3 separate regions of the Homo sapiens genome follow, and regions 2 and 3 are each linked to region 1. The links come from fine-mapping of genetic effects on gene expression. A gene starts in region 1. Each other region holds a variant in brackets. All regions are shown on one strand. Distances are from middle to middle.

What was found.
Region 2: its variant is fine-mapped to the expression of LINC02607 in cerebral cortex (GTEx, PIP 0.92).
Region 3: its variant is fine-mapped to the expression of LINC02607 in nasal epithelium (TOPMed, PIP above 0.99).

Annotation. Positions count from the first base shown.
Region 1 is chr1:95,508,870-95,511,539 of GRCh38, forward strand. It overlaps LINC02607 (long intergenic non-protein coding RNA 2607), which reads left to right and starts at 1,247. Exons shown (of 2, transcript NR_110622.1): 1 at 1,247-1,493.
Region 2 is chr1:95,545,075-95,547,744 of GRCh38, forward strand. No RefSeq gene overlaps it. Among named protein-coding and RNA genes, the nearest start is that of LINC02607, 36 kb to the left of the region's middle. The variant A/T (reference allele first, on the strand shown) is at 1,346.
Region 3 is chr1:95,741,409-95,744,078 of GRCh38, forward strand. The region is part of intron 1 of LOC101928219 (a long non-coding RNA gene); the gene reads left to right. Among named protein-coding and RNA genes, the nearest start is that of LINC02607, 230 kb to the left of the region's middle. RefSeq lists an enhancer at 973-2,172. The variant T/A (reference allele first, on the strand shown) is at 1,334.

The sequences.
Region 1 (2,670 bases):
TCCTGACTTAGTGTTTCTGAACAGAATTATTCACTTCTCCAGTCCAAGCTGGTTTGTTTGTTTGTTCCAAATCTTAACATCTGTTTTCTATGTGGTTGATTAAAAGGTTAGAATTCAAGGCAGGCGTATTTTCTGCCTCAACCACCCATAATTTAACCACTATACAGCTATTTTTCTTGCTATTTCTGTTTCTAAATACTACCACACATGATTTTTTTGGGACTTCTTTTTGTGACCCCTCTATGCGAGGAAGTTAGATTTGTTTATAGAGCTCTAGGGCTTGAGGTAGAAAAAAATTATCTCCAGGACTCTTTCCTGCCTGGAAGAACCTTCTTCAGCCACTTTCACATCCCTTCTGCTTGTCTGCATCTCATCCATTACCTGGGACTCCTCCACTGCCCAGTCCTGAGGCAGTGCTCTGGGTTCTTTTCCAGGAGTACTGCTTTTGGTCATTAGCTGACTGCTGCTCACTGGATGGCTATGTGAAGAGTCTCTTTACACTGCAGGGCTGGTTGGAAAGTCATGGACCCATTGAAGGCAGTGTGAACTCACTGTCTTGTGTTTCTGAACAGAAGAGCAAGGCATATCTGGCTCTGGTAGAACTGGAGGGGACAGATGTCTCTCCTTGTTCTACCTGTTTAAAGTTAACAAAGAGTAATAGTCTGGGAAAGAAACCTGAAAAAAAAAAAAAAAAAAAAACAAAAGAAAAAGAAAAGAAAGGAAAAGAAGAAAAAAGTGAGGGAGAGGCCAAAAAAGAGCAGCCAGACCTTCTGCCCTTGCTTCAATAATATCTGATCCATCATGATCGTTCCTGTGTACTGGAGTTCTGAATGAGGTCTCCATTGACCAAAGGAGACTGCTGCAAAGATAAAAAACTGAAGGGCACTTATCTTATCCAGTCCCTTCATTGCAAAAGATGAGTAAAATGTGTTATAGGAAGGTTATGAATAGCTAGGGAATATCAGAAACACACATATTGTCTTTTCCCTTTATTAATAGATTGTGGGGTATAATGCTGATCTGCTACTATTAGATACATTGAGATCAGATATAATCTGCATCCATACAGTCTTTCCAGAAAATATTATTCCCATCCTTTGGCAGGGGTGCTCAGTGCACTTGAGTCAGATGAGAAACATTCTTTGGGAATAATAGAGTTCTTCTCCCTTAGAAATGTTTCATGTACTTCAGAGTTGCTGCCATATGGTTCCCATAAAGGTTCTGCCAAAATTCCCGTGGTTCTCACAAGAGCTCCTACCTCCTCTGTTCTTTTAATCTCCTGCTGCGGGTGGCAGACATGGGAGAGACAGGCAAGCTGCAAAGGGAAGTCGACGAAATAAAATTAAAGCCCTACAATCGTGTTCGTGTCAATGTAGATGGGGTGCCCCCCTCGGTTTGCTCACAGAGGTGGGTGTGAGATCCTACAGGACGGTCTGGAAGACATCCCATGGAAGGCACTTTATTTTGCCCAGAAGCTGGAGGAAAAGCAGAAGGCAAGTGTTGTCTCTTAGAAGGCCTGGGCGGGGGGTAGGGGGATGGTAAAGGTTTAAGGAGAAGAAGTCTTTAGGAATTTTTACTTCACAGAAAAAAGAGAATGATACCTAGAGGCTTGTCTGAATTTGTGAAACAATGTAACAACAGAAAGAGGCAATGTTTAGAAAGGCTACCCCTCCTGATTATGTGTTCTGGCAGGCAGGGCAGAAACAGTCTCGGTGCCCATGTGAGGACTGGAACTGGTTTCTTTTCTCCTTTACATGATTGTTCTGAGTCCCTTCTGTTTCTTGGTGAGCTATATTGTGGTCTCTCTCCCAATCCCCCACCCTAAATTCTATGTACGTAAGTGATTGACAACTTTCTTCTTTAGAAAATCGCAAATTTCTCTTGAAGGTAAATGGCAGCGTTACAAGATACACTCGTAGAGTCTGTAGTTGTGGAACATATGCTCCTGCTTGCTAATTTCTGACTGCACATTTTGAAATAGATTCTTTGAGATTAATGACCAATTATTAGCTCTGACGTGATGCTTGCTAAGTTGGATGTGGATTCATTTAGTAAACCTTGTGTGTGCATTTGTTTTTTTATGTTTAGCAACTGCTTACATGGATCACCTGTTTTTGTTTTGCTATGACTTCAAAGTAGGTAAGGCAAAAAGAGACTTTTGGCCCCTGAAACTCATTCCAAAAATTATACTGAAGAAGTGAGATCTCTAGGTAGGTCTTGCTGAGTTTGGCAAGCCCAGGGGGGCTTATATTTTGATGTCATGTCACTTCTTTCCCAATTGTCCTGTTGTTTGACTCATCTAGAGGAGATTTAGCACACATGTTGGAGAGCAGTGAGGTGAAATAAAGGTCACTCAGGAATAGCATCCTCACAGGTCCTCATTCTAGCCAGGGTCCATCTGTATAAGCTCTTTGGGTGATCCCTCCCCACCTCCGTAAATGTTTGCCTCTCATGTTGCAGGTAGTCATGGGGCTTTTGCTTGATTTGACTGAGACAGTGAATTGATTTCACTCCCCCATTTCCCTCTCCTTCTACCCTATTTGAATTGTCTCTGCATGCTTGAAGATGAGGTAATTAAATATATCTTTGAAGGATATAGAAAACAACACCACCCTCCTCCTTGCCTTCTTCTGGGGAGTGCAATCCGGTAAACTACCAGGTTGTCTTGTC
Region 2 (2,670 bases), 36 kb after region 1:
TACAAAATTCAGAACACTACATTATTCATATAGTATTCTATGTTTTTTTTCCTTTTTTACACAACTTTTTGTTTTTCCTTTGAATTACTATTTGTCTTGCTTATTTGTTTTCTTAATTCTCTTTGTACTTATCGCTTATTCAACATTGATATTTCCCTCAGTTGTCTCAATCTGCTCTCATGCATTGAAACACATCAGATACTCTATACATTTCATGTTCTTGGGGACATCTTTCCTGGGGCTTACTGACCTCCTTAAATCTCACCTAGTTTTCTCCTTAAATTTAAGAGGAAGGCACTTAAAAGTTGATTGAAAACTTTGTGGGCATGAACAGAGCTGTCAGCTGTGTATTTTGCTGTAGAATCACATGGTGATGATGCTATATAATCTTTGTGTTTACCACTTTAATCATTCATAGAGTAAACATAACATAGTTAATGGTATCTTTACTGATTGATGATAGAGTACACATTTAAAGTTCTGCTACTAGAAATAATTCTTGGATGAATATCTTTTTATATATACTGAATTATTTCTTTAGAAGATAGTTCATTTTCTGAGTTTGGTCAAGATGATGCAGTGGGGCTGGAAATGGCCTATTTGGTTCTCTATGATGGTAATATCATGGGAACATTCTTTCTTCTTCACAGAATAAAACTCTCTGTGAGTCCAGGTCAGTGCAAGAGAGTCTAAGTCTCTATAGACTTTCTCAGATGCAAAGCCAAAATTCATCTTAATTTGTCACATTGCAGTATTCTTTTGTTCAGCTTTAGAGAAGAAGATATTTTGCTAGAGATAGTACTTAGAATCCCTAAGAATGTCAGTGATAGATACATTTAAATGTAGAATTCTAGGGTTCCATGCTACTGGAATTTAAAAATTTGGTGAATGGTAATGGTCATAAATGATATAGGATGAATAGGCATGTAGACATTCACTAGTCAGTTTTACTGTGTCAATAATGGCAGGAGTCTGCAAGAAAATTACTCTTGATATATCTGTCTCTAATGAACTGGACAGGCATTACCAAACCAACCTCTCAGCAATGAAACTTTGTGACAATGTAGCTCTGATTTGTCTTTGTTTTATCTTGTTAGCCGAGACAGTTGATAGCAAACACGTAAATGGATGGAATTAAAGCAATTCATTTGCACTCCCAGAAGGATTATTTTAACTGTTGGTATGGGTTGAATTGTTTCTCCCCAAAAAAGATACGTTGGAGTCCCAACCTCCAGTATCTAAGAATGTGACCTTGTTTGTAGATAAAGGTCTTTACAGAAGTAATCAAGTTAAAATGACCCATTAGGGTGGGCCCTGATCTAACATGACTTGTGTCTTTATAAAG[A/T]CGTAAAGGGGAAATTTGACACAGAGCTAGACACACATAGAGGGAAGATGATATGAAAAGACACAGAGAGAAGATGACCATCTACAAACAAAGAGCAGCGGTCTGGGATGGATTCTCCCCTCCCAGTCCTCAGAAAAAGTCAACTCTGATGACACCTTGATTTTGAGCTTCTAGCTTCCATAACTATAAGACAATACATTTCTTTTCTTTAAGCTATCAAGTTAGTGGGTTTTCGTTACGGCAGCCCTAGCAAAGTAATGCAAACATTTCCTCTATTCCATTTTGTTAATCCAGCTGTTCATGCCAGGGCCTCCAAGTGCTTTTTAACCGGAGCGAAATCTTAGTTTCAGCAGAATGTCAAGTTGACTTATGCTAAATAGATAATAGCTTTCTAAATTCCCAATACCAAGTATTAAGATATTTTAAAATATAACTGTTGCTTTTTTCTCTCATTATTTCTGAATGTGGAAAAAAATAATCTCATTAGAAATGTTGTTTTCAAATATGTTAGCAAGCCAATTAAAATATAGGCTTCTGGGTTTTGCCCGGATGGTAGTGATGAAATTAATTATGAGCCCCATGCTCTGCTTTCTGTGAGTTTCCTCTTCTCTTAGACCAAGCTGGCAGGTCTGTTATTGTAAAAGAAACCACTGAAGGGTCATCACCAGTATGAGATGAAATCATCGATGAACGTTTGACAGTTTGTAAGGCATAGTGATGTTACTTAGATGTTTTGTTTTCTCCTTGGGTGACATGGGCAGCATAGCAATTATAGCACATTTCAAATCATTGCTTACAGGGATATGACTCATTTCACAATGCAGTACTTAGTTGGGGCCCTGGCTGTGGATAGAGACAAGTATCTTTCTGTTTATGACTTTTCCTGAATTATGAGCAAACCAGACAGAGGCTTAGGTTCATTTGAAATTTTACACTGTGTTTTTCATTTTAATGAGATGCCTGGGTAAATTCAAAACCAATACTTTACACTGACACTTGATACGCACTGACATGTCATTATGTCCTACACATGCTGGTCAGGACTTGTAAAACAGAAACACCAGAGCCATCTCAAGAGTCTCCAAATAGATATGGACGGAGTATTATGCCTGAATAGGTGGCACCTCTTTGCTTGTGCACTTGCCGTTTTTTACTGACCTTGTTTGGAGCTGAACACTGCTGCAGGCACCCTTAAATTGATGCCTTATGACAGGTTCTCAGTTGAGTACTCAAACAGCCAAATTACTATTAGTTATTTTTCCATTCTTTCTGGCCCATTCACCCAACTAATAATAGTTACTGTTAGTTCTTGACTCCACTAGTGA
Region 3 (2,670 bases), 230 kb after region 1:
AGGAGGCTAAAAATAGGACCCCAATCCCTTCTAGCTTGTAGGGTTTCTTCTTAGAAATCTGCTGTTAATCTGATAGGTTTTCCTTTGTAGGTTACCTGATGCTTTTGCCTCACAGCTCTTGAGATTCTTTCCTTTGTCTCAACTTTAGATAACCTGATGACTATGTGCCTAGGTGATAATCTGTTTGCCATGAATTTTCCACGTGTTCTTTGAGCTCCTTTTATTTGGATGTCTAGATTTCTAGCGAGGCTTGGGAAGTTTTATTCGATTATTCCCTCAAATATGTTTTCCAAACTTTTAGATTTCTCTTTTTCCTTGGGAACACCAACTATTCTTAGGTTTGGATGGTTAACATAGTCCCAAACTTCTTGATGGCTTTGTTCATTTTTTTTTTTTCATTGTCTTTGACAGACTGGGTTAATTTGAAAGCCTTGTCTTCAAGCTCCGAAGTTCTCTCTTCTGCTTATTTGATTCTATTGTTGAGACTTTCCAGTGCATTTTGCATTTCTCTGTGTCCTTGATTTCCAGATGTTGTGATTGTTTTTATTTATGCTATGTATTTCACTGAATATTTTTCCTTTCATATCCTGTATTATGCTTTTGATTTCTTTAAGTTGGACTTCACCTTTCTCTGGTGCCTCCTTAATTAGTTTAATAACTGACCTTCTGAATTCTTTTTCTGGCAATTTAGAGAATTTTTTCTTGGTTTGGATCCATTGCTGGTAAGCTAGTGCTATCTTTTGGGGGTGTTAAAGAACTTTGTTTTGTCATATTACCAGAATTGTTTTTCTATTTTTTTCTCATTTGGGTATACTATGTCATTGTATTTGTATATGTCAGAGGGAAGATCTGGAGTTCAAGTGCTGCTGTTCCAATTCTTTCGTTCCACGTGGTGTTCCCTTGATTCGATGTTCTCTCCCTTTCCCTAGGGTCGGGGCTTCCTGATAGCCAAACTTCAGTGGTTGCTTTTGCTCTTCTGGGTCTAGCCACCCAGCAGAGCTACCGGGCTTCAGGTTAGTACTGGGGAGTGTCTGCAAAGAGTCCTGTGATGTGATCCATCTTCAGGTGTTTCAGCTGTGGATGCCAGCACCTGTTCCGGTGGAGGTAGCAGGGGAGTGAAGTGGACTCTGTGAGGGCCCTTGGTTGTGTTTTTGTTTAGAGTGCTGGTTTTTTGTTGGTTGGCCTCCAGCCAGGAGGTTGTGCTTTCAAGATTGCACCAGCTGTGGTACTATAGGAAAGATGCAAACTTGCCCTGGGGTTATCTGGTTAAGTATTCAGGTTTCACAGGCAGTGGGGCAGGGCCTTAGAGCTCCCAAGAGATTATGTCCTTTTG[T/A]TTTCAGCAACCAAGGGGTGGGGGAGGTAGAGAAAGAGCACCAGGTGGGGCAGGAATAAGCCTGTCTGTGCTCAGCCTCTCCTTGGGTGGGGCTTGCTGTGGCTGCTGTGGGATATGGGGGTATAGTTCCCAGGCCAATGGAATTACGTTTCCAGGAGGATTATGGCTGCCTCTGCTGAGTCATACAGGTCTCCGGGGAAGTGGAGGAAAGCCAGCAGTAACAGGCCTCACCCTGCTCCCACGCAGCCTGCAGTCTTAAAGGCCAGTGTCACTCTCACTGTGCTCCCCCAACAGCACTGAGTGTATTTCCAGGCAGCCAGTGACTAAATGACTAGGGCTGAGAACTTGCCCTATACCACAAGCCTCCTCGCTGAGAAAGCAAGCGGACTCACAGTTTTTCAGGGAGCCTGCAGCCGTGATCCAGTTCTTTCAAAGGGTCTGTGAGTCTTTCAGCTTTCCTGGTATGTTTCTTTGGTAGTTCCGGGAGCAAAAGTTCATGATATGAGTCTCCACACACTGCTCTGTCTGTCCCAAGTGGGAGCTGCAAGCTAGTCCTGACTCCTATTGGACATCTTAATCCCCTATTACCTGGTCCAGTTTTAAATAGGAACATCAGAAAAGATTTGACTGAGATTTGATAAAAGGAGATAAGCAAAAACAAAATAGAAACAAAAACAACCAAAAAATACAGGTACCTGGAGAAAGGGCAAAGTCCCTGAAATGAGTGTTTTTGCTATATCTTAAAAACAGCTAGTGGGCCAATGCGACTGAAATGCAGTTTTGGGGAAATGGAAGAATAGGAGGAATAGAAGACCAGGCCAGAGATATAAGGTAAATCATGCACATTTTTATGCTCAGTGTATTAATGATAGATTGAGGGGACATTGGCAAAAACAAGAAAGCTAGTTAGGAGGCTATTGTAGCAATCTGAGTGACAGCTGATGGTGTTATAAAGGTGGTGAGTTGTTAGATACGGGATGTATTTGATAGTAGAGCCAGTGGGATTTCCTGACAGATCAGATAAGGGATAAAGCAAGGTATTTGTTGTAAGCAACTGGAATAAGGAGTGGAAATTTACTAAAGTAAGGAAAATTGAGTGGAGCACTTGGGAAAGGGGAGAGACATCAGGGTTTTTATTTTAGGGAATGCTGTTTGAAATCTCTGTTAAGCAGAATAATGGAGATGTGGAGTAATTTATTTGCATATGTTCTCTTGGTGAGGTCCAAGCTGGACATATAAATTGGAAGTTATCAATATTTTGTTAATATTTAAAGCAATAATACTGGATGAGGCAACCAAAAAGAGGGGTTATATAAAGAGAAGTGGCCCAAGAACCA